2 linked regions of the Homo sapiens genome follow. The protein of the gene in region 2 interacts with the protein of the main gene of each other region in a pairwise test. Each region holds a gene or a part of one and is shown on either strand. Other genes may lie near its edges.

Region 1 (3,728 bases), on a different chromosome or scaffold from region 2:
AGATAGTATAGTCTTGGTCTCTGATAGTCCACCTCCTTCAGTAGAGCTAAGGATTTGATGAGAACATTAGGTTGGCTTTATAGCCATTTGCATACACTCAGGTAATTCTTAAAATGATGACTACTGCATAAAAGTTTGGTCCCTTTCATACAGTGCTTGCATAATTTAAAGAATTATATACTTAAGGGTCTAGAAAATAGAGATGAAACCCATGTTTGGGAGATCACAAGGGAAGTCAAGATGTAACACGCCTTCTCTCTAAGGAAGTCTCTCAGAATAGCCAGGATGAAGGGAACAGGCATGGGCTGGAAAGAGGCCAAGGAGAGTCGGAAATTACTATAAGGAAACTGATTAGGGAGTATTTGGCTGACGAAAAGAGTCTGTTAAGAAAGCAATTAAAACTTAACTCTCTGATAAATAGCTTAACATCGCTACTAGATACAGTTAGCCTGAGCATGAGAATTAATGTCGGTGTTTCCTTAGATTAAATACTCTTTAAAGTTCAGTGATAAGTACATTTAACTTATTCAACTTATACCAACATGTCTCATTACTTTGAATCTTATTCTCATTACTGTAGGTAGAAACCAGAGTTCAAAAGTACATCGCAAAATTTTAATTCTGTAGACAGCATTATACCATATATGCAGTATAGCATAGGAAGCTACCTCTGGAATTTGAGTCTGATTTCCAGCAGGATTCCACTACTGGTTGACCCTAGGTAAGTTACTCAATTTCCTCACCTATAAAACTGAGGTAATACTATTAGCTCACAGGGTTATTGGGAGGATATTACAAAATGGCTTTGGAGAGTTATCTGTATTTACTGCCTACTTCTTCATCTCTAGTTCTCACTGAAGTCACTCCAATCGGCCTTTTAACTTCCAATGAAGTGCTTTTGTCAAGGTCACCAACAACCTCCACGTCGCCAACTCCAGTGGATAATTCTCAGAATGCACCTAACTCAATGGTCCTGATTTCCCTCTTCCTCCCGGATCCCTCCCTCTCAGTCTTCTTTGCTGGATTCTTCTCTTTCCAACCTTTCAGTTGTGGGTGCTTCAGGGCTTGCTCAGTCCTCCCACCTCTTTGCTACCTACTTACTCCTCCAGAAGGTATCATCTGGTCACATGGCTTCAAATACCATAGCAATTAGGGAGATTCATATACCCAAATGCTCACTTGACATCTCCATTCAGATATCTAATAGGTGTCTCATATGCAGAACTGAATTCTTTTTTTATTTTTTTTGAGACAGAGTCTCACTCTGTTTCCCAGGCTGGAGTGCAGTGGCATGATCTTGGCTCACTGCAACCTCCGTCTCCACAGTCCAGTTGATTCTTGTGCATCAGCCTCCCGAGTAGCTGGGATTACAGGCCTGCGCCACCACGCTTGGCTAATTTTTTGTATCTTTTAGTAGAGACAGGGTTTCGCCATGTTGGCCAGGCTGCTCTCAAACTCCTGACCTCAAGTGATTTGCTCGTCTTAGCCTCCTAAAGGGCTGGGATTAAGGCGTGAGCCACCATGCTCGGCCCAAAACAGAATTCTTGATTTTTCTCCCACAACCTGCTCCTCCTGCAGTCTTTGCCATCCTAGAAAATGGCACCACCATTCAGGCGCTCAGGATACAGACTCTTAAAGGTACCCTTGATTCCACTCATTCTCTCACAACCCACATCAAATCCATCAGCAAGTCCTATTAGTAATATGTTTAAAAATGTATCCACAGTCTCACCACCTGCCCCCTTACCCACTGCCAAGAGCCTGGCCAAGCTACCACCTCCCCAGCTTGGACTCCTGAGAGAGCTCCCGGCGCTCCCGCTGCTTCTGCGCGTGCCCCTGTCAGGCTGTTCTGCGCACACCTATTCTTCAAAAGAGAAGCCAAATCTCAGCATTCCCCTGCTCACAACCCTCTCACAGCTCCCAACACAAGAAGAGTAAGGCCCACATCCTAATTGTGATCTACAAAGGCCACATAAGGTCTGGCCAGGCCCCCTCTGGCCCCACTTTGGACTATTATTCTCTGTGCTCCCCCCATACTGCCCTTCTCCCCTTTGCTTGGATTGATCGGGCATGCTCCAGTCTGAGGGTCTCTGCACTGGCTGTGCCTCATCCTACTCTCCTCCCAGATGGCCACATGGTCAAGTTCTTGTTTCACTTAGGTCTCAGAGAGCCCATCCTAAACAGTCTGTCTAAAAGAGCACTGACTCCTGACACTTTGTTTTCTTACTGTTTTAGATTTCTTCGCGGCTTTAATTATTACCTGATACACACACACTCACATTTATATTTATTTATGAGACAGGGTCTTGTGCTGTTACCCAGGCTGGAATGCAGTGGCATGATCACAGCTCACTGCAGCCTCAACCTCCCCAGGCTCAGATGATCCTCCCACCTCAGCCTCCCAAGTAGCTGAGACTACAGGCACATGCCACCATGCCTGGCTAATTTTCTTATTTTTTGTAGAGACAGGGTTTTGTCATGTTGCCCAGGCTGGTCTTGAATTCCTGGGCTCAAGGGATCCACCCGCCTCAGCCTCCCAAAGTCCTGAGATTACAAGTGTGAGCCACTACCCCCAGCCTTCATATTTATTTTTTGAGTATTTATTTTCCCCCTTAAACATAAGTTCTGAGAGCAGGAAATTCATCTGTTTTGTTCACTGCCATATTCCTGGGACTTAGAATAGTACCTAGCATATAGTAGGCACTCAATTAATGTTATCTAATTGTATTTTTATTCTTGGATAATGAGCAAGAGATTGCTTTCTACAGATGTCCATTGTCTGAGTAATGCCCAAACACTGGATCAAAATATCCTGGCCGGGCGCGGTGGCTCACGCCTATAATCCCAGCACTTTGGGAGGCTGAGGCGGGGGGATCACCTGAGCTCAGGAGTTCAAGACCAGCCCGGCCAACATGGCAAAACCCCATCTCTACTAAAAATACAAAAATTATCCGGGTGTGGTGGTGCACACCTATAGTCCCACTTACTTGGGAGGTTGAGGCAGGTGAATTGCTTTAATCTGGGAGGCGGAGGGTGCAGTGAGCCGAGATTGCGTCACTGCACTCCAGCCTAGGCAACAGAGAGAGACTTTGTTTCAAAAAAAAAAAAAATCCCAAAAAAGATAACAGAATTCACATGGTGACAGAAGGCCAAAGTGCAGAGTAGCCTATCAGTCAATCAGCCTTTGCAAAAAGAATCACCCCTAACACTCACAGTGGTACTAAATATAACAAAAAGACAAGAAACTCTGTCAATGCCAAGTAATAAAGAGAATCTATACGAGAGATATTTGCAGAAATATCAGACCCCAAAGGGGAGAGGGCAATACCTACCTTATCAGCCATCACAGAGGCAAAAAGGAAACGTCCCCCAAGACCAAATGAGTAGATTTTCACACCAATAGTTTTGAAGCTTTTTCCCAAGTCTGAAGTTCTCCATAATTCCAGAGCCCCAAGGTCAGCTTCTTAAACAAGACAAAATATTAATTAAAATTTCACTTACTGGTGAGCCTAGTTCAAAGCAGTTGTTTTAGAATCAATCTTAATTTTATAGCTAAAGCATTTTAAATACTATGCATGTTAATCAAGTGACAACATAAAATGTGATACAGCGGCCAGGCGCAGTGGCTCATGCCTGTAATCCCAGCACTTTGGGAGGCTGAGGTGGGCGGATCACGAGGTCAGGAGATAGAGACCAAACTGGCTAACACCATGAAACCCCATCTGTAC
Region 2 (3,906 bases):
TCTTCTTTTTTAGTGCTATTATAAATATATTCTATCTAACACATATACTTTCTGACATCGGGTTTTTTTGCTTGGGGAGAAATGAAAAGTAAGTGTGTCTGTTTGATTTACTTATTTTTTTTTTAGATTTTGAAAAATACAACCACTTCAAGTTACGTGTAAGAATTTCTGAAAGGTTATATGTAGGACAATAGTGAGCACATGGTGGGCACCACAGAGAGGAGATAACCTAAAATTGATACTACTAAATGATGTCTGTGCCAATTACATAGACTTCTCCAGGGTTAGGTCTGCAGGATGCATCTGAGCCTGAGAGTGTCATGCCACTAGTAAACATGGTCAGAGCTTGTGATTGAATATGTCTTAAATTTGTAAGTGTAAAACAGAACCACCTTAGCAAGATTTTTGTAGGAAAACATATTTGTGTACATGGCCTGAACATTTCAATTCTGCTACCTTCCAAAAGGCTTTTGAAAAAAGAAAAAACAAAGAAATTATCTTTTTGACTTAGAATAGTAGAGTTGAGATTACCATAATATGTCAGAGCTCAAACTTACTCAAATGCAAATTACTCAGTATGAAACTAAGTAGACATTATTTCTCCTAGAGTAAATTAGAAGTTATTAGTTCCATGAATTCGAGTCCATTTTTTTAAATGTCACAAAGTTTGAGACTTACTTTTCGTCATATTAAGCAAGACCTGAAGCTCAGTCTGTGCATCTGGGTTAAGGCCATCCACATTTGTATGTATAAATGTTGAACTAGAAACTAGAGAACTGCTAGCTCCTATGAGAAGGGAAAGAGTAGAATTGTAAAAGTCTACATTATCATGAGTAGAGCATTATTATTCATCATCAGTAGCAGAATGCTCTTTGCTGTTACAAGCACATAAGATTAACAGCTCACCTTTCTGCACAGAGAAGCGAACATTTGAAGGCCCCACCGCATTTTCTGAAGAGAAATTTGCTGACTGTATTGCTATGTTAGGTTCCACCACTGATTGATTACCCAAAGACAAGGAATAAGTCTCCATTTGCTCAATAAGCCTGCATATAATAAAACACAATTTAATACTCAAGATTTTGTCATAAAATGAAAGGTATGTGTTCTGTCTTACACTACAGCAGAAAGACATGAGCATAGAATTGTGTGGTCATGACAACATTGACAATTGCCTAAGAATAATTGGTTTTCTTTTCTAGAGTTTTGTTGTGTTATATGTACTTAAATAAAACAGTTCTGGTGGACAGTCCTCACTGAAGGCTACCTTGAACATAGATGGCAAAAAGGTAGAACTCAAGAATTATAGAATTCCCAAAAGAAATAGTCTTTATTATGATGCTCTTCACATAGAAGGATGGTGTTGCCACCCACCATTGGCAAGGCATGCACTTCTAATTTTTTCTCCAGTGGTGAGAATCCATTTCCATTTATTCATCTTCTTCCTCTCACCCAAACCCCTTAGGATCCAAAGCATGTTTTGTAAGTTGTTCGTTCCTGAGGTGACAGTTCAGATGGAACCACCAAAGAGCAGAGCTCTGAGCTCATTGCCTCAGCTATGAACTAAACCCTGAAGGTTTTTACAATGTTCTTTTCTACTTTGGCTAAGTTCAAAGATAGATTAGATGGAAGGTGGGAGGGAGTGGGGGCAACCTGTCAATTTGGCATTCTCCAAAGAAAAGTCATAAGACCTTTTCTTTTTCTTGTTTCCCATAGAAATATTTGAACTATTTCTGTACTTGACCAAACAAAACCTCTGTATGTAAAATAATCAGTCTAGTTCTTCCAGAAATGAAAGGATTTCATCAAAATGTAGTTGTTCTATATGTCAAATCTTTATTTCTGACACTAAAATATCTTTTCTCTACCTCCAAATGAGATAAAAAGAAAGTTTACAATAATTGAGGATTGCTTTATAAAGAGAACATAATCATCATTCGTATGGAAACATTCAGGTTAGATCCTCTGATTGAAATGTTTTCCTTTTATAAAACCATTTTCAGCAATTCACACATACCCCAGAGCTGCTTTCAATGGGAGGAATACCTAACAAAACTCCCACCTGCTAAGAATATCATTCTACCAAACAGTATCTGTTGAGTATCTATGTAGAGGTCAGCACTCTGTGAAACAGTGGGAGTTCCAGGAGCTGCTCCCTCAGGCATTTGCAGGCTAAAAGGAAAGATGTGGTAGATATACAGGAGGTGTTTTTCATGTTCCCACTTTTACAGGGTTGCTCTAACCATAGCTACTTCTAAGGTCATTTTTTCTTTCTTGTACTTCTTTCCTCCTCTTGTCATAACTGATAAGATTACAGATGGGCACCTGCCCCAGAGAAGCCAATCCAGAAAGTGGTCATCCACCTGGCACAATTGACTAAAATAAGTCATCAGATTCTTGGAAACGGGGTTTTTTTTGATTAGTGCTGTAGTTATATCAGGAAAGTCATAATTTAGAGGAAGCCAGAGAGGTCATTACATCATTGTGAGAAAAACCACAAATTAAAAATAAGAGGCTAATTCTTCCTGTTGAAAATAAGAAAAGACCTGTAAACTCCTCTACTAAGGCTTCCAAAGCTGCCTTGGATCCTCAGTCATCTTCCTGCTCCAGGGTCCATATGGCAATAAAAGAAAATAAAATTTCAAGACCCTCTAAATTTATTATGTCAAAAGGAAGTTAAGCCCTGGAGACTGAATCACGTGTAGCGTGTTTGCAACTTCTGCTTATTAGATTATAGATTAACTCTCTTCCTCATTGTTCTTGTTCTGTAAATGACTAGGAGAGGCCAGACCTTTCCCCTTTCTAATGACTGATCTATGTTACAGATTAATTGCCTCCTTTTTTGTCCTGTACCTAACTCAGACCATTTAGCTCATGATTGTTACGTCTTCAGTGTAATTGTTACACCTTCAGTGTGGAATGTTAAATACACATTTCCCAAAAGAAAAAGACCACCTCAGCTAATCAGATTACTATAACCATGCATTACTATAAGCCTTATATAGAAAGCCTTATATAGAAAGACGTTAAAACTCTCTTAAGCTTCCCTAAACTTTGTTTATATAAATGATCCCAAACTTATATACTTCAAAACATTGACTTCCATTTTTTGGAATTTGTGCTTCCCAGGCAGCTGTCCTTAAACTTTGCACTTGAACGAACTCTCTTTAAACTAGATTCTGACCTTTTTGATTATTTTGGGTTGACAAGGCCCACTATATTATGATCTAGTTCTTGGGCCTCCATGAGACCCCATATGCCTATTTACGATAAATCTCTATTTGTTCAAGATATTTGAGTGGGTGCCAGGCTAGCTGGAACAGAAATAAAAAAAGAAAAGCGAAATGTAAATGTACAGGTGGTCAGTGCTAGGGAGGCATTTTGCATTCCCAAAGTCAGATAAACCAGGGTAATTATGACCTTCAATATGAGATCAAAGGTCTAAGGTTACAGATCAGACTATGCAAGCAATGTCTACAATGGTGAGGTCAGCCCGTCGCGGTGGCTCACGCCTATAACCCCAACAGTCTAGGAGGCCAAAGCAGGTGGATCACCTGAGGTCAGGAGTTCAAGATTAGCCTGATCAACATGGTGAAACCCTGTCTCTACCAAAAATACAAAAATTAGCTGGGCAGGGTTGTGCATGCCTGTAATCCCAACTACTAGGGAGGCTGAGACAGGAGAATTGCTTGAACTTGGGAGGCAGAGGTTGTGGTGAGCTGAGATCTTGCCACTGTACTCCAGCCTGGGTGACAGAGCAAGACTCCGTCTCAAAAAAAGGAAAAAAAAATGGTGAGGTGAAGTCCTAAACTCATTGATTGTACTATGATGCCCTCACCAGCAGAAACCCTACACCTCCAGAGCTCTGCCCACTTTGACAGAGTCAAAGAGTCTTTCTTCTCTGTC

The links. Proteins that work in one complex are often made in the same cells at the same time.
Region 1: the proteins of ADGRG7 (region 2) and SORT1 interact in binary tests that used the Homo sapiens proteins (3 or more experiments, as listed by UniProt).

The regions. Positions count from the first base shown.
Region 1 is NC_000001.11:109,342,419-109,346,146, forward strand, and holds part of SORT1 (sortilin isoform 1 preproprotein), read right to left. Parts: intron 3,464-3,728; coding exon 3,333-3,463; intron 1-3,332.
Region 2 is NC_000003.12:100,640,406-100,644,311, reverse strand, and holds part of ADGRG7 (adhesion G-protein coupled receptor G7 isoform 1 precursor), read right to left. Parts: intron 1,047-3,906; coding exon 907-1,046; intron 787-906; coding exon 679-786; intron 1-678. UniProt on the Homo sapiens protein: Orphan receptor.